Regions from separate parts of the Homo sapiens genome. Here region 2 is linked to region 1. The links come from fine-mapping of genetic effects on gene expression. A gene starts in region 1. The other region holds a variant in brackets. All regions are shown on one strand. Distances are from middle to middle. Region 1 holds the start of EXOSC3 (exosome component 3). Region 2 overlaps FRMPD1 (FERM and PDZ domain containing 1).

What was found. PIP is the estimated chance that this variant, and not a neighbour inherited with it, causes the effect.
Region 2: its variant is fine-mapped to the expression of EXOSC3 in monocytes after interferon gamma (Fairfax 2014, PIP 0.95).

Annotation. Positions count from the first base shown.
Region 1 is chr9:37,776,102-37,792,324 of GRCh38, forward strand. It overlaps EXOSC3 (exosome component 3), which reads right to left and starts at 8,963. Exons shown (of 4, transcript NM_016042.4): 1 at 8,620-8,963; 2 at 7,813-7,962; 3 at 5,885-6,036; 4 at 3,613-4,779. The coding sequence starts at 8,943. The coding sequence ends at 4,578. It overlaps TRMT10B (tRNA methyltransferase 10B), which reads left to right. Exons shown (of 9, transcript NM_144964.4): 8 at 181-304; 9 at 1,500-2,871. The coding sequence ends at 1,606. It overlaps LOC105376037 (a long non-coding RNA gene), which reads right to left. Exons shown (of 3, transcript XR_929599.3): 3 at 12,945-15,141. RefSeq lists enhancers at 8,646-8,705, 8,703-9,218, 8,716-8,855.
Region 2 is chr9:37,730,069-37,740,820 of GRCh38, forward strand. FRMPD1 (FERM and PDZ domain containing 1) reads left to right here. Exons shown (of 16, transcript NM_014907.3): 9 at 916-1,035; 10 at 2,236-2,372; 11 at 3,405-3,531; 12 at 3,662-3,757; 13 at 5,484-5,666; 14 at 7,028-7,175; 15 at 10,010-10,752. Among named protein-coding and RNA genes, the nearest start is that of TRMT10B, 18 kb to the right of the region's middle. The variant T/C (reference allele first, on the strand shown) is at 3,860.

The DNA.
Region 1 (16,223 bases):
CTGTGGATGAGTGACCCCCCAAAAAGTAAGATATTGTCACATAAGCTCTTGAGACAGTTAACTCATTATCTGCAGTTTCTTCCATTCCACAATAGGCTACTTATTTTTAATGCTGTATTACATTGAGAATATACTCATGTATAATTTTTATAAGAAAAATATTTAACTATATATTTACAGAAGGTGACATTTCAAAAGGCCCGGGAATACTCTGTCAAGACCGCACGCTTGCCAATCCAGGAATACATGGTCAGAAACCAGAATGGGAAAAACTATCATTCAGAGATACTGGCCATCAATCAAGGTACTTCTTACACGGCCCCCATCCAGGGTGTGTGAGTTCTGGTGCTGCTGCTTTGCACTGTGTTTAAGTGGCCTTTGAGTCAGTCTCCTCTGTGACTAATGTGTGTGGACTTTATTGCATGTACGTCATGACATATATTCTGGCCACTAAGAGGCATTCTGTTTTCTTCGTCACCAACTATGTTAAAGATAGTTGAAATTGTCCCCTTGGCCAGGTGCAGTGGCTCACACCTGTAATCCTGTAATCCACTTTCAGAGGCCGAGGTGGGTGGATCACCTGAGGTTAGGAGTTCGAAACCAGCCTGGCCAACATGGTGAAACCCCATCTCTACTAAAATACAAAAATCAGTCAGGCGTGGTGGTGCACGCCTGTAATACCAATTATTCCAGAGGCTGAGGCATGAGAACCACTTGAACCTGGGAAGTGGAGGTTGCAGTGAGCCGAGATCACACCACTGCACTCCAGCCTGGGTGACAGTGATACTCTGTCTCAAAAACAAAAAAAAAAGCTGGGCACGGTGGCTCACACCTGTAATCCCAGCACTTTGGGAGGCTGAGGTGGGCAGATCACCTGAGGTCGGGAGGTCGAGACCAGCCTGACCAACATGGAGAAACACCGTCTCTACTAAAAATACAAAAATTAGCAGGGCATAGTGGCAGGCGCCTGTAATCCCAGCTAATCTGGAGGCTGAGGCAAGAGAATTGCTTGAATCTGGGAGGTGCAGGTTGCGGTGAGCTGAGATCGTGCCATTGCACTCCAGCCTGAGCAACAAGAGTGCAACTCCGCCTCAAAAAAAAAAAAAAAAAAAAAAAAAAAAAAAAAAAAAATTGTCCCCTTCATCTAGAATGCCCAGCTTTTAACCTCTCACCACTGAATTCCTGTTTGATCTTCAGGGTTCAGTTCAGGAGCATCTTGGCCCTTCCCCATCCCAGGCCACAGCAGAGCCCTTCTGTTTCCCATTTTACTGTGTTCCTTTCTGTTGCACCCTATCCATTCATAGGCCTGTATCTTTCAGGGTAGGCTGAGGTCCTTGAGAGCAAGCAGAGCCTGTGTCCTTGCCTCTCCCCGCAAGACCTTAGTACCACATATGGTGCAGAATAGGTTTGTTGAACGAAATATTACAGAACATCCTTTTCATTTACTCGTTCTTTTTTTCCCTCTGTGGTCACTGTGTTTTCTGTTTACTCTCTAACAGTGTTTGATATCCTGTCCACTTACTTAGAGACTCACAACTGGCCTGAAGCATTGAAGAAAGGAGTTTCTTCAGGAAAAGGCTATATTCTTCGGAACTCAGTGGAATGATGGGCCTAAGATTGCAGCTGCGTGGCCAGGTGCTCACGCCGTAATGCCAACACTTTGGTAGACCGAAGTGGGCAGATCACCTGAGGTCAGGAGTTCACGACCAGCCTGGCCAACATGGTGAAACCCTTCTCTACTGAAAATACAAAAATTAGCCAGGTGTGGTGGCGCATACCTGTAGTCCCAGCTACTTGGGAGGCTGAGGCAGGAGAATCACTTGAACTCGGGAGGCGAAGGTTGCAGTGAGCCGAGATTTCACCAGTGCACTCCAGCCTGGGTGACAGAGCAAGACTCCATCTCAAAAAAAAAATAAATAAAAAAAAATGCAGCTGCAGGAGTGAGGCGCTTGGAGGTACCTTGACCCAAAGAGCAGGGCAGAGGGTGGCAGTGGCACATAGGCAAGTGTCTTTGCATGACATCTTCTCAGAGCTTCACAATAATGTCAGGGACCACATTTAATGCTTTTTAATCTCCCATAGTGCCTGGCTCACAGGAAGTGCTCAGATATGTTAAGTAATAAAAAGTTAATGTGGTGGGTGCAGTGGCTCACGCCTGTAATCCCAGCACTTTGGGAGGCTGAGGTGAGTGGATTACAAGGTCAGGAGTTCCAGACCAGCCTGGCTAATATGGTGAAACCTCGTCTCTACTAAAAATACAAAAATTAGCTGGGCATGGTGGTGCGTGCCTGTAGTCTCAGCTACTCAGGAGGCTGAGGCAGGAGAATCGCCTGAACCCGGGCGGCGGAGGTTGTAGTGAGCCAAGATCCAGCCTGGGCGACAGAGCCAGACTCTTGTCTCGAGGGGAAAAAAAAAAAAAATTATGTAACAAGGAATTAGCCTCAAAACCACATGGCTTTGGACGTGCTAATTCAACTTTTGTACATCTATTTGTGAGAGACCTCTTGAAATTGTTTAAATGGTTACATCAAGAGTTTAATATTCACTAAACTGGCATCATAAAATTGTATGACTTTCTCCAGCCTTGTCTGATCATGCTCGTTGTTGCCCAGCTCAGTAATAAGCTTTGCAGGATCCAGCCTGTTCTGACCTATCCCTACTGAGTCCCCATAGCATTTTGTTCCCTCCTGTGGCTCTTACCTTGTTCTCCCTTGCAGAGTATGGGCATGGAGGGCTTCTCTTCCTAATCCTTCCTAATGGTAGGATCCTAACAGGACAAATCTGTGTACCTATCTTTCTATCCTCCCTGAGCCTGTACCAACTAGATTCTTCATATGTATTTGTAACAGATTAAATTGGAAAGCAAACACAGTATTGATTAAGTCTGTCTTGAAAATAGCTAGAAAGTGTTAGACACATGAACACGTTAGATAACCTACTTATTACACAAATCTCATGTTCCTTATGTCCCAGTTGGACATATTTGCTTCAGTTACTCTGACAGTTTGGGTTAACTTGCTAGTTAAGCAGCTAGCAAATTTGGGACATGTATTCAATATCTCAAAAGAACCAACAGATTACTTCTCTGCTGTGTCCCCTCCCCTTCACAATTTAATTCCTAAGGAACTGTTCACCTAATCAGTACTTTTCTATTTAAAAACTGGCTAGACAGTTCATAATAAAAGATATGGGACCAACCTAAGTACCCATCAACCAATGAATGGATAAAGTGTGGTATATATATCCCATGGAATATTAGCCATAAAAAATGTCTTTTGCAGCAACTTGGATAGTATTGGAAGCTATTATTCTTAGTGAAGTAACTCAGGAATGGAAAACCAAATACCAAATGTTCCCACTTTAAGTGGGAGCTAAGCTACAGGTAAGCACACAGAGTGGTATAACAGATACTGGAGACCCGGAACAGGGAAGGGGGAAGGATAAACTACATACTGGGTACAATATATAGTACTCAGGTGACTGGTACACCAAAATCTCAGACTTCACCACTATACAATTCATCCGTGTAATCCAAAACCACTTGTACCCCTAAAAGCTATTGAACTAAAAACCATCCAGTCCTTAGAAAACATTAGAAACACACGAAGCTCCTTGGTCTTTATCAACAAATAGAGTTCTATAATCTCTTTGATCCAAAAAGGACTTTCTATGGATAGGCTTCAGGGGATCTGTATCTCACATATTCTCAGAGGTCTAGAAACCAAGAATCACTGATGTGGATCACCTGGCAGTCTCTTTACCTCTAAAGGTTTTGGTTAATATACTAAATAGCATAGAAGAGTTTTCTATGCTTAGCTCCTAGGAAATGATTTTAGCAAAATAAGACTTGGCCAGATTTGGATTCAGAAATCCTCATAGTGTTATTTATATAATGATAAAACTCAAAAATATCCTGTAACATGAAATATGTGACTAAAGTTGTGAAATGTATCATGCTGTTTGAAGTAGACAAAAGTATATTACAAAGTGGCATATAAGCTATAATAACTATAATTTCAATTTGATGAATATAGAGAATGTAGGCCAAGTTAAATTCTGTGCCTCAGTTTCAATTATGAGGATAAGTGTCTTCTGCAGTTAGAATAAAGGAGTTAATCCATGCAAAACACAATACTTGGTAAATGAAAAAGTATTTCGTTGTTATATACTCACCCGCTGAATAATGGGACTACAGGTGACATTTCTTTGCTGCTTTATACTTAGGTATTCCACATTTCCTCTGGTGAACCTGGCTTACTGTTATAATCACAAAATTATTTTACTGCTGACCTCCAGTTAATTATGGAAGCTGTAGCAATTACTAAGGGAGTTAACTCCAAATAAACCCTAATACTGTTTTTTAGTAAACTTTATTGTACCGAACAAAAAAAATGATTTTGCAATGATTTTCTCTCCCACAAAAGCGTGGGTGAAAACCAGTAACTTATAAAAATACTTTCGGACTCTAATAATACATACATTCACACCTTATCTTCTGAGTATTTAAATGGGGGAGGTTCACCTGAAAAAACCCATAGTTTTTTGCCTCAACTGACCTGTAAAAAAGTCCACCTATATCAACTTTCTGCCAATCTGGAGAAGATCTGTTTTCTTTGATCTGACGTCATGTGTTCACAAGCTTCTAAAATGTTTGCCAAAATTAAAGTCTGCTGGATGGTTTTTGCCTTAACCCATATTCTTCCATTCATTCCAAATACTATCTCCAGTGGATAGAGTTTTCCCACTTCCTGTATGATTTCACAATCTGGAGCTAATAGCCTGGTGGGAAGAGAAAAGAAAATGAAATTTAATGAAGTGGCAAAGGTGTGTCCGGAGTCTCCTTTAGAATGTGATTCCTTTTCTGAGCAGTTCTCCATAGCTGTTCAACAAGAACAAGGCACGTGATGACATTTGCTGCCTCCTTTCTTCCAAGAAGGAACTTTACACTGTTCAAAGGTATACTAGAAATCACAGAGGTGGGCTATGCCTTACAAAGAAATCAAACTCCCTAGGTTACCAACTTTGTAAAAGTCATTCCCCTAGATGGTCAGAGCACTTTAATTCTAGACTGGGAATCATAACTTTTTTTATCTACAGTGTTAAGACACTTTAAACTTATTTTCCTGGCCATATTATTCTCTTGTGTTAAATTCAGTACTTGGAGAGGAACATTGGCTCTTTCAAACCATAAGGGTGGTGCTTGGTTAATAACATGCTTCTTGGTTAAAAACATGCTTCTCTGATGTCCAAACTTAATTCTCCAGATCTTTAGGATATGTAGTAAGGAGAGGCATACAAGATAGCTCTCAACTTCACTGGCTCTAGGAGTAAAGCCCCTGAATATGGCACAGCTTTGGGTGGGTAAAGTTCTAAACACCAAAAAGAGAATCTGCCTCAGCATGAACCTCAGTATGCCTCAGTATGACCAAGTGTCAGAAGCCTTCTGTGAATGTCTACATAACCTTGAACATCACAATCTAAGCTGCGTGTGACCCCCATAATTAGAAAAAATTGATAATTTTATACAACTGCAGACTGCATCTGTATTCAAGTGACTCAGAACAGGGGAAAGGCCAGTTTTCACATTTGGGCTAAGTCAAATAAGCAACAGGCCTGGGAAGGAAGATATGAATACAGAGTAAGAGCTTAAGGCATGAAGTATCAGCCCACCAGAAACTACACAGCCAAACACATCTGAATTTGATATGTTTCCAAGAAGATAGGATTAAATTCATGAGTTTCCAAATGTGTTAAAATGGATACTGATTTCTAACTCTGAGGAGAAATTCAAACGTTACAAAGAATCTGAATCCTGAAGATTAACCAACTTTCCAAGAATGTATAATTATAAAAAGCAGTCAAGCCAGCAGACATCAGGACTTACTTTCTAATTAAGCCCAGAGTCACTTTAAAAAGCAGACCATCCTGTCCAATGACACCCATTCCATTGGCTCGTCCACAGCTGTCAATACAGACCATCTCTGGTTCCATGTCTTTATTAGCAACCACAAACTGGCCATAGATGAGATCTCCAACCTACAATGATATTAAAAACCAGTTCATTTCCTCTCAGCAAACTACAGGTGCTACTATTGGTTCTTTCTCACAGGCATCAATGCCAGCCACCTACAGTTCTGTGGCTAAGGGACTGACTGCACTATAGGATTCCCACAGTCACTTTGGAGTTGAGTCTTGGGGAAAAAAAGGAACACATGTATCATTCCCTTTCACCAATCAGGAAATCACAGACGAGGAGCCATCTCAAGGCCAGAGAACACTAGGATTGCACTGTCCAATATGGTAGATAGCCAATTGTTTAAACTTACATTTAAATTAAAATTAGGTATTTAAAATTAATTTCCTGAGTTGCATTAGCCACATTTCAAGTGCTCAACAGCTAGTGGCTACCATACTAATCAGTGCAGATACAAAACAGCATCACTGTAGAAAGTTATATTAGGTCGCACTACCCTAGAGAATTACAGATTTACAGAGAAAGGAAGGAACTCCGGCATGCAAATTATTCAAAGCAAAATCAAACAATAATTCACTGACACTTCTCCCTGCAGGATTTACTTAAAAACCTCATAGAGCTAAACTTCAAAGGGACGAAACTGAGGAAATGGAGAGTGAACTCATTCTGTTCACTCAACAAAACGTATTAAGTACCTACTGTTTGTTGGTGACTATGTAAACTAGAAAGGAACAAAACATTCTCTGCTTTTCAGAAGCATTTGGTCTTGGAGGGCAGTGGGGAGGTACATATAAACAAACCTCAGTCAAGGCTCAATCCAGTAAGTGCTAGAGCAAAGATACGAGAAAAGTGGCAACTAGAGATGGCTTTACAGAGGTGGTCATGTTTAGCCTACGTCTCAAAGAATGAGAATGTGTTCCATAGGGTGCGAAGGGATAGTGCAATCAAGACAGTGGGAACAGCATGTGCAAATAAGGGCAGGAAATTGAGTTTAATGGCGTTTGGTGTGATTTGAGTATGGCTGTATGAAGGATATAATTAGGGATGAGGAAAGACACCTGGAGTGTAATGCCAAGGAATTCTGTAGATTTTGGAGAATCTTGTCTTTTCGAGAAAGTGACCGTGTGAGGATGTCAGCTCTCAAAATCCTGGATGGTGAGGTAAAAGCGTGGAGGCAGGGATTAATGAAGAAGTGACTGAGACCAGTCAAGAGGGAGCTGAAGCCTGAACTTGTGGAGATAAAGGGACGGACATGCCAAAGATCAGAGACAGAATCAAATAGGATCAAAATAGGATTAAGCAACTAAATTTGCATGAGAAGTGAATGAGAAGAGGTGAAGAAATCACTAAATTTCAGGCTGGATAGACAAGAAGAGTGTGGCTATGCTACCTGAAAAGCTCAAATTGAAAACCCAAGGTAACAATATTACTCCTCTATCAGCTCCTAGGACCTACAGCCAGGATGGATGGATAGCTGATAATGTCAATTTGCACCACCTGTCCCTCCTCTAAGCCTACAGCAGACATCCTTGTCCAGAGGATATGGACATAACAAATAATGGCGATGATAGATACAACCTTTCAACTCAGTAGAAATGAAACATCCCAAGAACAAATGTAGCCAATGTAAAATAAATTGTAAATGTAAAAAATAATAATAATAATTATGTGGCTCTGATCCTGGAGCATCTGAAGAAACTCTTGGAGCCTGGGGCAATTATATACAAGCTCAGAGATCTAGGTCATGCTTTGGAGACAATTCAGATAGCCTTCTGGATATGTGAGTGTTCTAGGGAATGGATGTTTGTTTCTTTGAAACCAAAGGCTCCCGTAATTACCTGCACATTTGGTCTGTTTCTTTTAGTTGCACCTTCAAATGACAAGTAAGACAAAGAAGCTGGCTCACTCCCTCCAACATCAACTTTGAATATATCTCCAGATTTAGCTGTCACTATGCCAATCACATGGTCTCCTTTTACTGGAACATACTACAAAAAGAAACAGAATGAAAAAACAGCCATAAATGACAAGATACCATTGGAAGATACCTTCAGCAAGTCCTTTGTGGTTACTTTATTGTCATTAAAGAGAAATCTGATCAAATGCCACTTTCGGTAAAAGAAAATCACTTCATAAAGTGCCGGGTGTGCAGCTTCTGGTAGTCTGTTAATTGAGTCCAAACTCCATTATCTCTTAGGCACCCCAACCAGTAAGTCTCTAGCTTTGTGGCATAAGTCCAGTGGCAAAGGAATCCTTACAACCAAGGAAGCCCATTCCATAGACAATTTTTTCTATATGAAATTCTTACCTGTTCTAGGAGAAATTAACTCCCTATGACATCCACTCATTGAGCCTAGTCCTGCCCTCTGAGACTCCAAACGGCAGGCCTGCTGTGGGGTTTTGAAGACTATAATCATGACTCACGGTCTCCAAACGTTTTTCTCTCCTGGTCGCCCTTCTCAGGCTATGTTCCTATTGTTCACGGTCCCTCTAAAGGACATGCAGAAGTGGGCACAAGACTACGGTGGCTCTAGGTTTGCCTGAACAAAAGAGGGCCTCAGGGTCCCTCTCTTCTTTTGGGAGGTCTTCTCAAAGCAGGGCTACCACTCTCACTGCCGCACCACCCCTCCGGAGTCCCAGCTCACCCGCTTCTGCTGAGAGTCCACCCAGTAAACACCGCCGCCGCTGCCACTGCCGGGCTCCTTGTGACGGAGGCGGCCGCACTTGGTGACCAGCAGGCGGTCCCCACAGCGCCGAAGGCCCGGACCGCATACAACGCGCACCCGCGAGCACGCTCTAGCATTCAGGCTCAACGGTCGCTCCACTGCACCCCCAGGGCCTTCCGCGTCCTCCTGTTCCGGCAGGAGCAGCTCCTCACCCGGGAGCACCACCTGACCTAGTACTGTGCGTGCAGCGCGCGCCCTGCTGCCCGCGAGAGATTCAGCCGCGACAGACGCAGGTTCGGCCATCGCGGGCTCCACCAAACACCGTTTCCGGTACCCGCCTTCCGCTTCCGCTCCGCTTCCAACACCCGCCCTTGAGGACTTTCCGTTTCCGGCAGTAGCGGTCCGTTGGATTCGGACCAGTTTATGAAGCTTGATGGCCGTCAGCTCACGGGTCCCTGTCCAAGGTGGCAGTGATTGTGGCCGGCCACCTATCTGACAGCCTGGCCGCGGGTCGGTATGAAAACCGCGCAGCTTGGTCCATCGAAAAGCCTCCACTTCCAGTGTCTCGGGTCGCGTGTTTTGTGACCGGTCGCATCGTGGGGATACGAGATACTTCCACTTAAGAGTTTCTTGGGATCTCTGGAAGCTGAGCAGAGGGGCTTTGAAAATTGGACGCTGGGGCCGGGCGCGGTGGCTCACGCCTGTAATCCCAGAAGTTTGGGAGGCCGAGGCGGGTGGATCATTTGAGGTCAGGAGTTCAAGACCAGCCTGGCCACCATGGTGAAACCCTGTCTCTACTAAAAATACAAAAATTAGCCGGGCGTGGTGGCACGCACGTGTAATCCCAGCTACTCGGAAGGCTGAGACAGGAGAATCACTTGAACCTAGGAGGCGGAGGTTACAGTGAGCCTAGATGGTGCCACTGCACTCCAGTCTGGAGGACAGAGTGAGACCCTGTCAAAAAAAAAAAAAAAAGGGAAATTGGACGCTAGGTGGGTTCATGGGACCTTCTTTCCGACTCCGCCCTCAGAAGAGTGGCTGACCTTTTAACAGGAAAAGTAGTTTTTTTCAAAATAAATAAAACCTTCTTGGTTGTTAGAGATCTAGTCACATTTAGAAAACACAGAGAAAAATAAAAGAAGAAAATAAACGATGTTTTAATCTTGCCCGTTTTTCTCCCTTGCTACACTGTAGTTCTGATTCTTTAGAGCCCAAGGTGTGGCATGAAATAGGTAATACCTGATGAATGAACGAATGTATTCCTTTGGTGTGTATTTCTCCCTAGACTTTTTCCCCCTGCAAATATACATATTTCACATGCTTCCGATAGCCCTACATGGCCTGGAATATCAGTAACTCAAATTTCCCTGGAGCACACTTAGTTGCGCACGTGAGAAGCAGTTGAATTCCAAACCCAAAGAGATTCCAATCATCTATCTGACTTTGGGGGTTCTATTTTAAATCACCGTTTTCTCTGTCAACTCGAACCTTCAATTAGTGCTTGATCAGATTCTCCAGCAGTGGTAGAATTCCTAGGGTCTGGGAGGCCGTGACTGACCGATTGCCTTTAGCGGCCCTCCCTTTCTACTGCTCATCTCTTTGAGGCACCTGCTTCCAACGTAATTTTTAGATTTTTTTTTTTAGACGGAGTCTCGCTCTGTCGCCCAGGCTGGACTACAGTGGCACCATCTCGGCTCACTGCAACCTCCGCCTCCCAGGTTCAAGCAATTCTCCTGCCTCAGGCTCCCGAGTAGCTAGGATTACAGGAGTGCACCACCGCACCTGGCTAATTTTTGTATTTTTAGTAGAGACAGCGTTTCACCATGCTGGCCAGGCTGGTCTTGAACGCCTGACCTCAAGCGATAGGCCCACTTTGGCCTCCCAAAGTACTGGGATTACAGGCATGAGCCACCAAGCCCGGCCGAATTTTTAGATTTTTTAGGATGATTAAGACAGATCATCTCTAACACACCCTCCAAATTTGGCAAGCCATTTTCCCCTGGGTATAAAAAAAGGTCAACAAATAAAAGGAGCTCCCACCTCCAGGTTAGTTTCCCTGGCAAGAGTGGGAGCTCCTGTGGCAGGGACAGCGTAAATTGTGCTCTCTTCCCCACTCCAGAAGTATTCGGTGACCACGCCTGCCTCAATCTTGGCAGGCCCAAGGCCATGGCTCAAGGGCGCTCAAGGACCTCACATTCCGGCCAGGCAAACAGGCAGGTCGGTAAATGTTCTCTGGACCGTCTTTGATACACCCCATGTCGGTAGTGAAGTCTCTGGAGGAAACTCGGCCCAGATCTAGCGGCTGAGTCCTATGAGGCCCACTACCCTGTGGAGGCCGCACGTGGCGAGCGGTGTAGCTCTCTCGCGGGTCAAGGCAGATGAAACAGGGAGGCCGGGACCCGAAGGCGGTGGCTGGGCGGGGCTCCACTCCTGAACACCTACCACCCTGACACGCCCAGAGCGGGTGGGGCACGCGGGACCGCAGCCTGCCCACCAGACCGCGCGCAACCGAGGAGGTGTTTCGCCACCTGGCGGTCTTGCGCCCTGTCGAGAGTGAGCACCCGGTCCTAGGCGGCGGGAGCCCTAGGCCGCGAACGAGTGTCTCGAACCCGGCTTCAAGCCGTCGAGGGCGCGCGGGTCGGTTCTAGCGTCCCATGGGTCGCGGTTCGCGTTTTCGGGCAGCGCGTGCCTCCTCTCCTGGTTATAAAAGTGGGAAAAGTGCAACGACTGGGGAATGCAGAGGAGGCCAGAGCCCGGTGCAGGCGGCGTGCGCGCTTTGCCCTCTGCGGGTGCGTGTGTTTCCTTGCCAATCGCGAGGTGGATTACGCCCGTTCTCTTCAGAGGCTTACTGGTTTCGAGCCGAAGCAGTCGAGACTGCTCACCTTTCCAGTGCCTCTGGCCTACGTCTCCCCATTCGGAGTGTAACCAGGCCCCTTGAGATTTAAGTAGTCTGGCATTTTTAGTAACTGAAGTATTGAAAATTCCGTTTGGTGTTTTTTTTTTTTCTGTTTTGTTTTGTTTTTTGTTTTTGAGGCAAAGTCTCGCTCTGCCGCCCAGACTGGAGTGCAGTGGTACGATGTCGGCTCACTGCAACCTCCACCTCCTAAATTCAAGCGATTCTCTTGCCTCAGCCTCCCAAGTAGCTGGGATTACAGGCATGCACCACCATGACTGGCTAACTTTTGTATTTTTAGTAGAGAGGGGGTTTCGCCATGTTGGCCAGGCTGGTCTCAAACTCCTAACCTCAAATGATCCGCCTGCCTCGGCCTCCCAAAGTGCTGGGATTCCGGACGTTAGCCACCGCGCCCGGCCGTAGTGAAAATTCTGATCAGGCCCTTGCCTGCATGCACATAGTAAGCGCTCCCGTTTTGCCCAATATCTCTTGTTCCCACAATATAATTATAAACTGCTGTTGTCCTGTTTCTTTGTCTAGCAGGAGAGATAACTTCAGGGTCATGAAAATATTTTGCAGAAGGAATGAATGCCATTAAGGACTTTTTGACCAGCTGCTGACACCCATAAGTCTGGTTGCTCAAAGTTTTATCTGAGACTGTAGAGGCACAGACTTTTCCCCTCTGTTCCCGGAAACCCTCCCTCACACCCTACCCCATAAAAACGCCTGCTGTCATCTCTTTGTTAAGTAACATTTGAGAGATCTTGCTCTTCCGCCTTCTTGCTTTGGCCCAATTGAACAAACCTTTCTCTATCTCCAAGCACCTGTGTCTTAGCGTTTGGCTTCAGCTCTGCATCAGGTACATGAGACTGAATTTGGGGTTACACAACATTAGTATGACATATGGGGAAATTGCCAAATTGACCTTTGGAAAGGTTGGACCAGAGTGTAGCTTTCTGGACTCCTCCCAGAACTTCCTCTTCATAACTAATCTTTGCTAGTTTAGAAGTTAGAAACGTGGCATCTCACGGTTGCTTTTCTTTACCGACTGGTGAGGTTGGGCATTTGTTCCTTTTAACCAACACTAGTTGAGCATTTGCTTTCAGCCAGGAATTGAGCTGGGGAGGCGGCTGAGTCCTGGTCCCTGCCCTTGGGGGAGTTCACTCTCTCCACATGAAGATAGCAAGTGTTAAGGTGGATGCAACAACCTGAATAGAGTGTCAGCCCTGAGGGTACAGAGGATGAAATAGTTGTCTCTACATGGAAGGAAGGCAGGGGTTAGGATAGGTGTTACAAAGGAAGTAATAATTTGAGTGAATCTTTAATATTTTTTACTTTACTAGTTTCTAAAATTATAAATGAACTACATGCTAATTTACATACTGAAATTAACCATAAAAGCCCATGAAAGTATTGTTAACATCTTTATTCAAATACAGGATTTAATCTAAAAACATAAATGCCCACAGTTATCACTGCACAAATGACAGACTACTTGCTACAGATATTTTTACACAAGGATCATAACTTCTCAAACAGGATTTATTGTAAAAAGTAAAAGAACACTTTTTTTTTTTTTTTGAGACGGAGTCTTGGTCTGTTGCCCACGCTGGAGTGCAGTGACTTGATCTTGGCTCACTGCAACCTCCGCCTCCCAGGTTCAAGCGATTCTCCTGCCTCAGCCCCGCAAGTAGTTGGGACTACAGGCACACATCACCACTCCCGGCTAATTTTTGTATTTTTAGTAGAGACGGGGTTTCGCCACATTGGCCAGGCTGGTCTCGAACTCCTGACCTCAGGTAATCCGCCCATCTCGGCCTCCCAAAGTACTGGGATTACAGGCGTGAGCCGCCACACCTGGCCCAGAACACGCTTTTTTCTTACCAACTACTGTTTTAAATGTATTAGCAATTCCATAAAATATAGTTTCCTCACCATCATTTCCCAAATCTGAACTACATTCTGTTGGCTAGATTCTTATGTGGAATAACATTCAAGTTTGGTCTTAGTGTATCACAATACAGGATTGATTTTAAATACTCAAAATTACATGGTTTTCTGGTTTCCAACAGCTTTGCCATTTATCTGCATTTCTTGAATAAGGAAACATCTTTCTAGTTCATGTTTATTTTCATTTTGTAGTGTGTGTGTGTGCCTGTGTCATGGCACCCTTTGTTAGAGAAGAGCCCCAACCTCCTAGAGAATAGCAAGAAATAACAAGACTCCAACGGAGACGACTAAGCAAGAAAGCAGGTTCACCAGCCACAACTCCATTGGTACCAATGTAGATGAGATTTGGTGGATCAGATGAAGAAATTTATTATTCAACACAGCATACAGTAGGAGTACCAGCAAGGTAGCACTGGTTGGCCTGTCCTCAAGTCCTATGGAGTAAATGCAATGGGCCCGGACAGTGGTTGCACATGCAGTGGTTTGCACCATGACTGAGGGATCCAGGGCTAAGGGCCTAGCATCTTTTGTAGCAAGTGGCAAACCAACCAGCCTCCTTCCCTGAGGGAGTGAGCTGTTGTATGGTAGTTATGCTGTGGTCATCTTAACCTAGTTAAATGCCGATGTGACTAGCTAGAAATGGTTCAGTATTAGGGGAAAGTTAGGCCTTGTGTTTGGCATACTTCGCAAGCACATGCAGAGATGCTCAAGGCCACAGCAAACTGCCTGTCCCAATAGAAGTCAAGGCCTGTCATCATCTGACTCTACCTTATCTCTGCAGTGTCATCTCATGCAATTTTTTTTAGTGATCTAAGTTTTTTATCATTCTGGACTATTCACCAAGGCCACTTTAGCTGTTGTATTCTTCTAGCTACTGATTCTCTCCTCTTATCTCCTGCCACACAGCAAGATTCCTGAACACAGACAATAACTGCTCAATAAATGTAAGGATGAAAGGGCCTGAAATTGTGACAACTACATAAGAAAACTGTGTGTCATGATGCTATTAAGGGACTGTATTCATTGAATTCCTTCTATATACAAGGTCCAGGCATAGATGGATCCATGGAAAAGCTTAAGATATCTTCATCAGTCAAGGTCTAATCAGAAGACAAACCATGCTCATTTGAATAAAGACAGTTTAATATATGAGGAATTATTAGCTATAACAGGGTATTAGAATAATGAAGCACTGGCTAATAAGAACTAGAGAGCTTTAAAGAGTATAGCAATAGCAGATATAAGGAACAGCTGCTACTCTAATGCTGTGATAGAGTTCCCAAAGAGGAGCCTCTCGCCTCCAGCCAGGGCAGATTGAGACCCTTTTGAAGAGAGTGTGGCTGTGGCTCATTAAATGGCAAGAAGTCACTGGGAATCTTCCAGTGGAACTTCCTATAAATCCACCCTCTAGAATTTTCTGGCACTTTTACGTTGCTGAGGAAACGTATTCATGGGGAGGGGTCTCCTGGAAGCCTCTGCTATAAAACTGCCCAATAGGGTGCTAAGGAACACTGCTGGCTGCTGAGTGTTTCTGGCCACCAATCAAAGCAGGAACAGATGCTGGAGAAGCTGCTGTGCTGCAGAAGTGTGCCAGTGAGCACAACTGGACCAGGAAGCAAAACCCATTCCTCCTGAAACGCCTCTTCAGGGCCTTCTACCTATAAAGCATATCATCACGAAAGAGAACAAAGGAAAAAAAATTTAAGGCTCAGATCCATTTTCTCAGAGCAGTCAGTGAAGGATGAATTTGGACCTGAGAGACAATACATTGATAACTGGCACAAGGTCTCATGAGGTGGTGTATTAGTCCATTTTCATGCTGTTGATAAAGACATACCCAAGACTGGGAAGAAAAAGAGGTTTAATGGACTTACAGTTCCACATGGCAGGGGAGGCCTCACAATCATGGCGGAAGGCAAGGAGGAGCAAGTCATGGATGGTAGCAGGCAAATAGAGAGCTTGTGCAGGGAAACTCCCATTTTTAAAACCATCCAATCTTGTGAGACTTATTCACTATTCTGAGAACAGCACAGGAAAGATCTACCCCATAATTCAATCACCTCCCACCAGGTTCCTCCCATGACACATGGGAATTGTGGGAGTTACAATTCAAGATGAGATTTGTGTGGGGACACAGCCAAACCATATCAGGTGGTAATATCAAACTCATCAGTAATAGCAATAAGGTAGAGTCTGCCCATTCCCAGATGGCTTCACTGGTGAACTATACCAAACATTTAAATAAGAATCAATACCAGTTATCACAAACTCTTACAAAAAACAGAAGAGGAGGGAACACATCCCAATTCATTTGATGAGGCTAGTATTACCCTGATATCAAAACTAAAGACATCACAGGAAAAGGAAACTATCCTTTTCCTTTATGAATCAATATCCTTTATGAATACAGACACAGAAATCTTCAACAAAACACTAGCAAACTGAATCCAGCAACATATAGAAAGGACTGTATACTGTGACCAAGTGGAATTAATCCCAAGTATGCAAGGTCTTTTAACATCTGAAATCAATTAATGTATTATGCCATCTCAATAGATGCAGAAAAAGCGTTCGAGAATGTCTAACACCCTGTCGTGATTTAAAAACAAAAACAAAACCAAACCTCAATAAATAAGATTAGAAAAGAACCTCCTCCATTTGATAAAAGGCATCTATGAAAAACCCACAGATAACACTTAATAGTGAAAGACTGAAAGCTTTGCACTTAAGATCGGGAATA
Region 2 (10,752 bases), 49 kb before region 1:
GGTCCCCATTTTGCAGATGTGGAGACAAAGGCTTAGAGAGGTAAGGTGACTTTCTCAAGGTAACACAGCTGATAGAACCCTGATCTTTTGCTTCTAGCTCTGATGATCTTCCCTTGCACCTGCTGCCTTTGAGCCATTAGGGAAGCATTTGTTGCTGTGTCTAAGCCCTTCTTGTGGGACTTACCCCCGATATGGTTCCTGATGGCAGAATAGGGTAAACACAGCCAAACGGTCTATATCACTCAATCTCCCAACCATTCAATAATATGTTGTACCAACTTTTTAAAGCTAAACACAGGTTAGTTCAACAAATCTTTGTGAGTCTGTTACAAAGATGAGGAGGATTTTAACAGTTGGAAATGAGTAATACATAACCTCATAAAAGCCACCCTGAACATTCCTCTTTGCAGATGAATTCTTACCCAATGCACTCACCGATTAGAAGGTTTACTGCTTGCAGACTTTTTAATTACTTCTATTCCATTTGCATTGGGAAAGAAAATCACATTAAATCCCTAAGATAGTTTAAGTGAAATAAAGTAAGTTGTAGAATGGTATGTATACTATATTATTATTTGTGGAAGATAAAAGAATAGACTTATACTGAAGCATGAATATACATAAACTGTCTCTGGAAGGGGCACACAAGAAACTGAAAACAGGAGTTTCCTCTGGAAAGGGAAACTGGAAGATAGGTGAGTGGGAAATGCTGCCCTTTTGAACCTTTTACATTTTGTACCCAGGAAAAAGAAAGTCAAATTAGGAGTAAAGGTCTATGGCTGTCTTGGGAAGCACTAGAATTGAAATCTCTGGGAACTGTCTTTCACTGTCTGTGTTTTATAGAGTGGTTTTGTGGAATGACTGCAAGGACAAAGGCAGTTAGGAGATTAATAGTATCTCCCTTACCCATCGCAGGTGGTAGAAAGGGAGGAGTCACATGACTACCGCTGCCTCTTCAGGGTCTGTTTTGTTCCCAAGGACCCCCTGGACCTCCTGAAAGAAGACCCCGTGGCCTTTGAATACCTCTATCTGCAGGTGACTGGGTCTGTGCTTCCTAAAATAACAGTGGTTGTTCTCAAAGATGGTGCACTGGGTGATTTTGAACGTGAGCTCGAGGCCATTAAACAACTCCCTGGTAGGGATTCTCTTTATCTGAAGGAGAATGGGCCTGATCATCGCTCAGAATTCCCTTTTCCATCACTGAGTTGCTGTTTTAGCAGGTGTGCGATATCAGAATGAAATTCAGGCTCAGTCCTCAATGTAGATGATACATTTTCTAATACCATTTTAGGATCTTTAGAATTACAGTTTTTATTGCCAAAAGGGGCCTTAGTGCTTTAAAACCTCGTTTTAGAATGATGACACTGAGTCTTGGAAAGGTCGTGTGATTTGCCTGGGTCACTCACTTAGTGGCAGAGCCAAAACCTGGTTCTTGATCCGTGGCCTGGTGCTCCCCCTATTCTACCTCCTTAGATGAGAGTTATGATGCCATTTTTATTCTGATGAAAAATAATCATTTGGAGCCGGGTGCGGTAGCTCACGCCTGTAATGTCAGCATTTTAGGAGGCCGAGGCAGGTGGACCACTTGAGGTCAGGAGTTTGAGAACAGCTTGGCCAACATGGTGAAACCCCGTCTCTACCAAAAATACAAAAAATTAGCCAGCCGTGGTGGCACACACCTACAGTTCCAGCTGCTTGAGAGGCTGTGGCAGGAGAATCACTTGAACCTTGGAGGTGGTGTTTGCATTGAGCCAAGATCATGCCACTGCACTCCAGCCTGGGTGACAGAGCGGGATTCTGTCTCCAGAAAAGAAAAAAAAAAAGAAAAAGAATCATTTGGCAGATATCACCATTTTACAGATGAGATAACTCAGACTAGGTGGATTGGACTGCCCCAAGTCTTACAGAAATGGTGGCAGAAAATAATAATAATAGCAATAACAACGCCATCAATACTTTATATTTGTATAACACTGTGTGCCTTATACCTGCTTTCATATGCATTATCTAATTTAAGTCTCACAGAAACCACATAAGGTAGATTTTACTATCCTCATTTACCAGACACCAAATGCTTGGAGAGTCTTGGTAACTTAACCAAGGTCACACAGCCAAGAACTGTCAGAGCCAGCTCTCAAAGCGGAGCTCCTGGTCCTGCTGCCTTTCACCCGAGAGAACGAGGGGACACAGTATGTCTGCTTTTGTTTCCCATCTGCTCTATTTAATCTCTTCTAGAGCTGCAGCGATGTGCTCCAGGAGCGCTTTGCTGTAGAAATGAAATGTAGCTCTGCACTCCGACTCGCGGCTCTGCACATCCAGGAACGGATCTACGCCTGTGCCCAGCCACAGAAGATCTCTTTAAAGTATATAGAGTGAGTGGCAGGGGATGGCAGCTGCATTGCATTTATAACTTGCTGGCCCCTGGCCAGGAGGGCCAGATGCCACAGAAAGCTGATAGTCACCCACCTACCCATCTGTCTGTTGTCTTTCCATCCATTTCCCTCTGCACCCTCTCTAATCTGACCTGGCTCCCCCAGATGTCTGAACCTGGCTGCTCTCTCTGGGACAGAAGCCAACTCCAGATGGAATGTCACAGGATTCCCTTGTAAATTGCCTGTTCCTGGGAAGATGTCTTGGGAAATCAGTTGCCAGCATCAGTGTTAAGCTTTTCTAGGGGTGGGAATGCCTTGGAAGTTAATTTTTCCCGTGGATATGAACCAGTTCCTATTGCATTATGTCTCCACTAGAGCAGTTTCAAGTCCTACGATTCCAGCACCTTCTGATTCTTAGCTTAGAATTGTTCTGGACAGCATCACTCAGGTTTGCTAAGCCCCTCCCCAGATCTCAGCTCTGTCCTGCCTGAGCATCAGAATCAGATGGGGAATCATATTTTTAAAAATACAGCATATCCTTGGCCCTACCCCTGATGTACTAAGTCCAATCTCTCGCAGCAGGGCCTGAGAATCTGTAGTTTTAGCAATTTTCTGGGGGATTTTGAAGCTGCTAGGCTGGCACCATGCTGAAGCTTAGCCTAGGGGATTCACAGGAGCTCTGCGTTGCCCCATGAGAGTGTCTTGTACTCTCTTGTATGCTGTCATTATTTGCCATGTATTTTGTAGTGAAAAAGATTCAGAACTCCTGCTCTGACTGATAGATGGTCACACCACACCAAGAGTAATGAGCTCCCAGAATGATCAATGGGGTTTAGTTCCTGAATGCCTGTGGGGATTTTTGTGGAGAGTGTGTGTATGTGTGTGTGAGAAAGAAAAAGAGAGGAGGAGAAAGTGGCTCGTAATTGCTGTATTATGGGAACACTAAGTACTGAATCAAATGTAATTATGCTCTTCATTAGAGCCAAGTACCCTGTAGAAATGGGCCTCCTTGTCTCCAATGTCTCATGGCAGGAAAGACTGGGGAATAGAGAACTTTATATCTCCAACTTTACTCCGAAACATGAAAGGCAAAGACATCAAGAAAGCCATTAGCTTCCACATGAAGAGGAACCAGAATTTGCTGGAACCCCGACAGAAGGTAATGAAGGTGCCTCTGCCGACCCACTCAGCTGTCGTCTGTGAAACCTTAGGAAAAACATTTTCAACACTGCCTGGATTTTAGACCAATGAATAACTCTGACTTCAAGTGTTTTTTTTTCTCTATTAAGCAACTTATTTCTGCTGCCCAGCTACGTTTAAATTATCTACAGATCCTCGGAGAACTCAAGACATATGGTGGAAGAATCTTTAATGCTACTTTAATGGTATGTATTAGAGAACTGTGAAATCCTACTCACGTAAGGGACCTTAGAGATCCTCTGAAAATCAATGTGTCTTTTAGCCTAAAATTCCTGAGGACTCTGTCA[T/C]GTACTAGAATTTGTCTGGTAAACTAAATAGTACACCACTGGAAAATATTTACCACGCGTTTGCTTGGTGCTACCCCTGTGATAGATGCTAGGGGAAGCAGGGCTGAATAAGATGTGATTTCCGTCCTTGAAGGATGAAACAAGCTACCCAACAAAATGAAGCAAAGCCATGAGACAGGTTCAGGCCTATTGCTGTGGAGTTTGGAGACAGAAGGTAGCACTGCTTGCTTCAGGGTAAGTATAGGGAGGAGAAGGGGTTAAGGAAAGAGGCAAGAGGAAGCCTGAATTTGGCCAGACTTCAGTAGAGAGGAAAAGGCATTCTGGGTCAGAAGGGGATGGTAAGCAGTTCACTCTGGAGCTTTGGGTATATGAAGGTGAAGAGGAAAATTGGAAATCATGAAAGAAAAATAAGAGTGTTTGACTGCCAAGCTGAGTCTCTGATTGTTCAGAAGGGAGGAATGAGGGGTGGGCCTGAGAAGAGAAACGAGAAGCAGAAAAGCCCTCTGCTCTCTTCCCATTCTCCTGCCTGCTTCTTTTTGGAGCCTAGGCCTAGAGCTTGTGCCTTTCAGCAGTCAGTGTCTCGGGGGTATGGTTTCAGAGAGCTTTCCTCCAGCACTGTCAGCCCCAGGACTCTGCAGCACAAAACCAATTTACAATTAGAGTGGGGTTTTAAAAAAATATTAACCAAAATCCTTTCAAAAGATTTGGTATGCATCTCAGTCATTTACAGTGATGGGCCAATGTAATCAGACTGCTAACCTAACAATGTAGATGGAAGAAGAGAATCAGTGTTTTGAAAGAAAGGAAGAGCATCAGATAGTTAGGGGAAGGGGAAACACAGATGGATTCTTCGTTTAAGTAGAAGACCCAAAAGGTGGGAAAGAGACTAGATCACAGAAAGGAAAGTTTTGAAGGTACAAGAAAAACTTCCCAATTTTTCTAAGGGCTAATTCTACCCTCTCCCAGCTGTCCAGTTCCAGTCCCCAGTCTCCCTTTACCTTTCTTGTCTAAGGAAAGAACTGGTAGTGGGAGAAGCAACCAGCTACATGGAACAGGTTCAGGGTGCTTGCTGGGCACTGCGGGTTACAAATAGAGATAAATGCAGACTCTGTTGTCAAGAAACTTAATGTGGAAAATGAGACTTAATACAAATAATTAAAATAAGAAGTCATAAGTGTTCAGTGCTAGTAGAGAAGTAAGAGGAAGTGGTACAGAACAACAGAGAGGAAAGGGAGATTTCTGGCTTAAGGAGGCTGAGATCAGGCAGATGCTTTCCATAGGCAGTAGGTTTTGATGTAAGCTTTTAAAGAAGGATCAGGATTTAAATGGGAAATGATGGCAGGGAAGGGATTCAAAGAGCAGGAAGATAGGTACATAGGTGTGAAAATACAGATGTGTTTATGGCTGTGGCTCAGGGCTATATTGGAAAGAGTTTTGGGGAAATAAATTTACACTTTGATTTAGCTGTTGATGGGGTCCAAGTTAGGCAATAGTCTGGAGGAGTGGTGGTTAGGATCCAAAGTAGGAATCAAGGAGTTTGCAGCGAGAGGTATTATTGCTTACATGTGAAATGTATTTTCACTCGCTTGCGAATGGAGACTAATTCCCCTTCCACCCTCTGCAGTTACAGGATAGAGAATCCTACATTGCCCTTCTAGTTGGAGCCAAGTATGGGATTAGCCAGGTTATCAATAGCAAACTCAACATCATGTCCACATTGGCAGAGTTTGCAAACATCAGCCGTGTAGAGCTAACGGAAGAGTCTGAGAAAGTGAGCGTCGTCAAAGTGTATCTTCAGGACGTCAAGGTAACACAATGGGGAGAGATTCTGAATTCAACTGCTGGAATTTGGGGCCAAATAGGGGCCAGGCTAGTTTATATGAATTTTAAATAATAATAAAGTCTAATGTCCAATATCTGCTTAAGAGGACGAATTGTCCATCCTGTTCTATCAAACGGAAAGTGGTAAATGGTAAATTTTCCTGAAGAGGTCCTAAAAGGTTTTTTTGCACAAACTGAGATGGACCATGTGCTTTCCTGTTGGATTTAGAAACGTAGATGGAGAACACCAGAGGATTTTTTTTTTTTTTTGAGACAGAGTCTCACTCTGTTGCCCAGGCTGGAGGGCAGTGACACGATCTTGGCTCACTGCAAGCTCCGCCTCGTGGGTTCACACCATTCTTCTGCCTCAGCCTCCCAAGTAGCTGGGACTACAGGCGCCCACCACCATGCCCGGCTAATGTTTTGTATTTTTTCGTAGAGATGGGGTTTCACTGTGTTAGCCAGGATGGTCTCGATCTCCTGACCTCGTGATCCACCCGCCTTGGCCTCCCAAAGTGCTGGGATTACAGGCGTGAGCCACCGCGCCCGGCCCACCAGAGGATTTTATCACATGAATGGGACCAGATTGCTGCTCAAAAGCTTTGAGTGGTGGGCATTAAAATGGGTAAATAGTGGGCCCGGTGTGGTGGCTCACGCTTGTAATCCCAGCTACTTGGGAGGCTGAGGCAGGAGAATCACTTAAACCCAGGAGGCAGAGGTTGCAGTGAGCAAAAGATTGCACCATTGCACTCCAGCCTGGTGACAAGAGCAAAACTCTGTCTCAAAAAAAAAAAAAAAAAAGGTAACTAGTGCAGGGTACCTCCTGAGCCTCTCTCAAAGGTCTTACTTTTATTCTGCCCTCCTTTGATTTAATCCCAACATACTCAATATTGGTGCTTTATTCTTATCACCCTCTCCCTCATTCTCCACATGTTCTTGCTCCTTTTTCTTTTTTAAGTTCAGTCTTGCAAGTCCCTCTGCAGGAATGAACAGGGTGGGATGGGGCAGTTTGGATATGGCGCTGGGGTAGAGGATGAGGAGTCAGAAGACACTGTATAGATTGGGTGGGAAGGACCCACTGTGTGTGAGTGAGTGTGTGAGTGCGTGAGAGTGTGTGTGTGTGTGTGTGTATGTGTGCGCACACACACACGCGATGGTGTCTGTACGAGTACATGCATGTCCTCATTTAAAGCCTTGCAAGTGAGGATATGGGGCACCAGGAGACCTACCTGTGGACCATGGCCGGATTTACCTGGAATCTCTCGTTGGTCCCACATGGCTTTGTTGTCAGTCTTCAGACTGTCCCTTGGTCCTTGATAAACATGAGATTTCTATTTGCTTTCAAAGGTTCTGACTTTGCTGCTGGAATCCAACAGTGCAAAAGACCTAGCCTGCCTGATTGCTGGGTACTACAGGCTGTTGGTTGACCCAGTTACCTCCATTTTCCTCTGGCCTGGAAACAAACAACAAGCGCACCGGGTATCTGCAGAAGAAGGTGAGGCACTGAGTCTTGCCCCAATAAGGACAGGCCCCTTTCACTGGCCTTGTAGGTAAGGGCAGCCTAAAGGGAGGTGGTGAATTGAATTGAGCCGAGGCTTCAGCTCAAGTGGATGAGAGCTATTTCTCTGTTTATTTCCTAGTAAACAATTGATCTTTCATAAATACTAAACAAAGAAGCTTTCTTTGTATCTGAAATTTTCCTGAAACCAAGGAATGCTGTGGAAGAGCTCTAGTTCCCTGCTGTATTTCCTAAGATTGTCTCTCAGATCCACTGCATTTTATCATTATTTCTCAGCCAGGCATTGTGGCTCACGCCTGTAATCCCAGCACTTTGTGAAGCTGAGGCAGGTGGATCACCTGAGGCCAGGAGTTTGAGACCAGCCTGGCCAACATGGTGAAACCTCATCTCTACTAAAAATACAAAATTAGCCGAGCATGGTGGCACATGCTTGTAATCCCAGCTACTTGGGAGGCTGAGGCAAGAGAATCGCTTGAACCCAGGAAGTGGAGGTTGCAGTGAGCCGAGATCGTGCCATTGCACTCCAGCCTGGGCAACAAGAGCGAAACTCCATCTTAAAAAAAAAAAAAAAAAAAAAAAGATTATCATTATTTCTCATCAAAAAGAGATGTCACTTATTTGTTCAGGAAGTAGATGACCTGGCTTCTCTTCCTTACCTATGCACTCTTTTGCAATCTCTTGAAGTATAAAAGAACTTCTCTGCAAGGCAGGTAAGACAGTTTCCTAGGCCAGCTCCCAGTTTCTGCCAGGCTTTTGCCTCAGCACCATTGATGCAGCATGAACCTAGGGCTGTGCTGATAAATGCTTAACAACTCCCTGCAGAGGGACAAAAACAGTTTGAAGGAATTGCCCAATTCCATGGTGTCAACATTCTCACGATGGGTAATTTCAGGCTACCACGATATGATGATACCATGATGAATGTGGAGATGGGAAGAGGTGATCAATAGCACACCACTGTAGAGTGTTTCCTCTATATGGATAAAGTAGAAATCAGCTCAAGAGAATAGGTACTAATACAATAAGTAAAACAGTTAGAAAGTGATGAGTTTGGAGTATCTGTTACCTTTGTTTTTATTTTTATTTTTTTTAGAGGCAGTCTCTCTCTGTCACCCAGGCTGGAGTGCAGTGGTGCAATCTTGGCTCACTGCAGCCTCCACCTCCTGGGTTCAAGTGATTCTCCTGCCTCAGCCTCCCAAGTAGCTGAGATTACAGACACCTGCCACCACGCCCGGCTAATTTTTGTACATTAGTAGAGATGGGGTTTCGCCATGTTGGTCAGACTGGTCTCGAGCCCCTGACCTCAAATGATCTGCCCACCTTAGCCTCCCAAAGTGCTGAGATTACAGGCATGAGCCACGGCGCCCAGCCTGTTACCTTTGTTGTTACACAATGTATTTATGAACGAGGGGTGACTCCTCAGAGTCTGCTCAGGGAGACAACGCAGAGTGGCAACAGGGCTGTTGTGGAGGGGTTGTGGGGGGGACTGCTGCTGCCTGTCAGAGAAAGTTCTCTAGAGGAAGAGGTATTGGAAATAGATCTTGAAGAACATGCTGGAGTTAACCAGGCACGGAAAAGGAAGACAGATCATTCAAGGCCGAGGGGGCCTGGAGGAATGACCCGAGGAAAAGGCCATGACCTGAAAGGAGCTCTCCCTATGGGTGGCTGGAACGTGGCAGGGAAGGCTGCCATGGGGGACTGGGTGCCTGAGGAGGGGCTGGACCATATTGCAAGAGGGGAAAAGGGAGATGGTGAAAAGAGATAGGAGCCCCACCACGAGAAGGGCAGCTAGACTACAGAGGAGACCTCAGCGCCATTCTGTGAGGGAGACACTAGACTGAAGGGGAGGTGTCAAGACCATCCTGTCGTGGGTACTAGACTGCAGAGGAGGGTTCAGGGCCATCCTGGGAGAGGGGGAAGAGCCTGCAGAGGAGGCCTTAGGGCCATCCTTTGAGGCAAGGGAGGACTAGACTGTGCATGAGGCGCCATGGCCATCCTGTGAGAAGGGCAACAAGGCCATACTGTGAGAGTCTGTAACTGTTGTGGGGGAGGCCAGGCTCTTCCCCGTAAGCAGGGCAGCCATCAGAGGGTTTAAGCAGGGTGTGATGAGGTCAGAGAGAAGTTTGAGAAAGATCACTCTGGAGGCTTACAGGAATAAAGAGATTGCAACCTGGCTCAGTGCTCCCCAGCCTCCTACCATTAATCCTTCCTGAGAACCTGCCGCTGGATGAGTTTTCACTGTCCTACAAAGCCCATAGCACCCATGGATCCAGAAGGCCAGGCTTTAGAATGGTGCCAGCCTAGCAGCCTCGTACTCGTCATAAAATTGCTAAAAATACAGATTCTCAGGCCCCACTTCTAGCGATCTGACTCAGTACATCAGGGGTAGGGCCAAGGATCTGTTGTATTTTTAAAATATGATTCCCCATCTGACTTTGACGCCCAGGCAGGATAGAACTGAGGTCTGGGGAGGGGCTTAGCAAACCTGGGCAGTGCTGCCCACACAAAGAGGAATCAAAGTAAATACCACATTTCCATGAACAGACAGTTCTCCTTGGAGGTGGGGATGGAGTTAATCCAGCCTCCTTTAGCTCAGAGAGATGTGGGACAGGCGGTCTGATAGCATGGGGAGAACATGGAAGCTGGAGTCCCTCGGATCCCGTGTTCGTCAGTATAGGACGGTCTTAGGCCAGCCACCCTCTGGCCCTCAGTTTTCTCGTCTGGCAGGGTTGGGTGGGGGTCAGGGGGCTAGAAGGACACATAGGTAGGAGAATTCTGTTGTGTAACTGTTGCTGTACCCTGTGTTGCAGGCTATGAATCCAGGGCCTGCAGTGACTCAGAGGAGTCCTCTGAGGTGGACTGCGTACTCGAACCTCTCTCTGACAGGCGCCTGGTGAAACTGGCACCCTGCAGATCACTCATAAAGGAGGAGCAGCCTCCTGGGAACAGCCCCACACCTGAGGTGGCTAGGAGGGGCCCCAGCACCTGCGGGGCCAGCAGCACGACAGACAGTGCCGAGTCCGAGGCGTCCGACTCAGCCAACACTGAGAGCCGCGGCTACAGGACCAGTGGCTCGAGTGAGTCCATGGACGCTCTGGAAGAGGATGACTTAGACACCTGCTCCTCCAGCAGGTCCACCTTCTTCCACTTTGGCTCGCCAGGCCTCGCAGAGAGCATTGACTCTGACAGCCAGGAGGAGAGAAGCGGGATTGAAACCAGTGGCTTCCTCTGTCTCCTGGACCTGGCCCAGAGAGCCAACCCCCAGTGCCAGAAGACAGAGTTTTCCGAGAGTGCTGCTTTGGAGACATTTGGCTGGGCACCAGAACTGAGCACAGTCAGGCTGGACCCCAGGCTGTATGAAGGCAGCCACGCTGACTACTACAGCCTGTGTTCCAGTGTCTCCCCGGCCAGCTACCTGAGTGACAGTTCCGAGAGTACAGCTTCCCGGCAAGGGGGAGCCCCGCCAGCCTGGGGTCAGCAGGGCTGGACTGAGGCCCAGCCCAGTTCCATGCTGGAACCCCTGGCCCTGCACCCACCACTGGCCTTTGAGGAT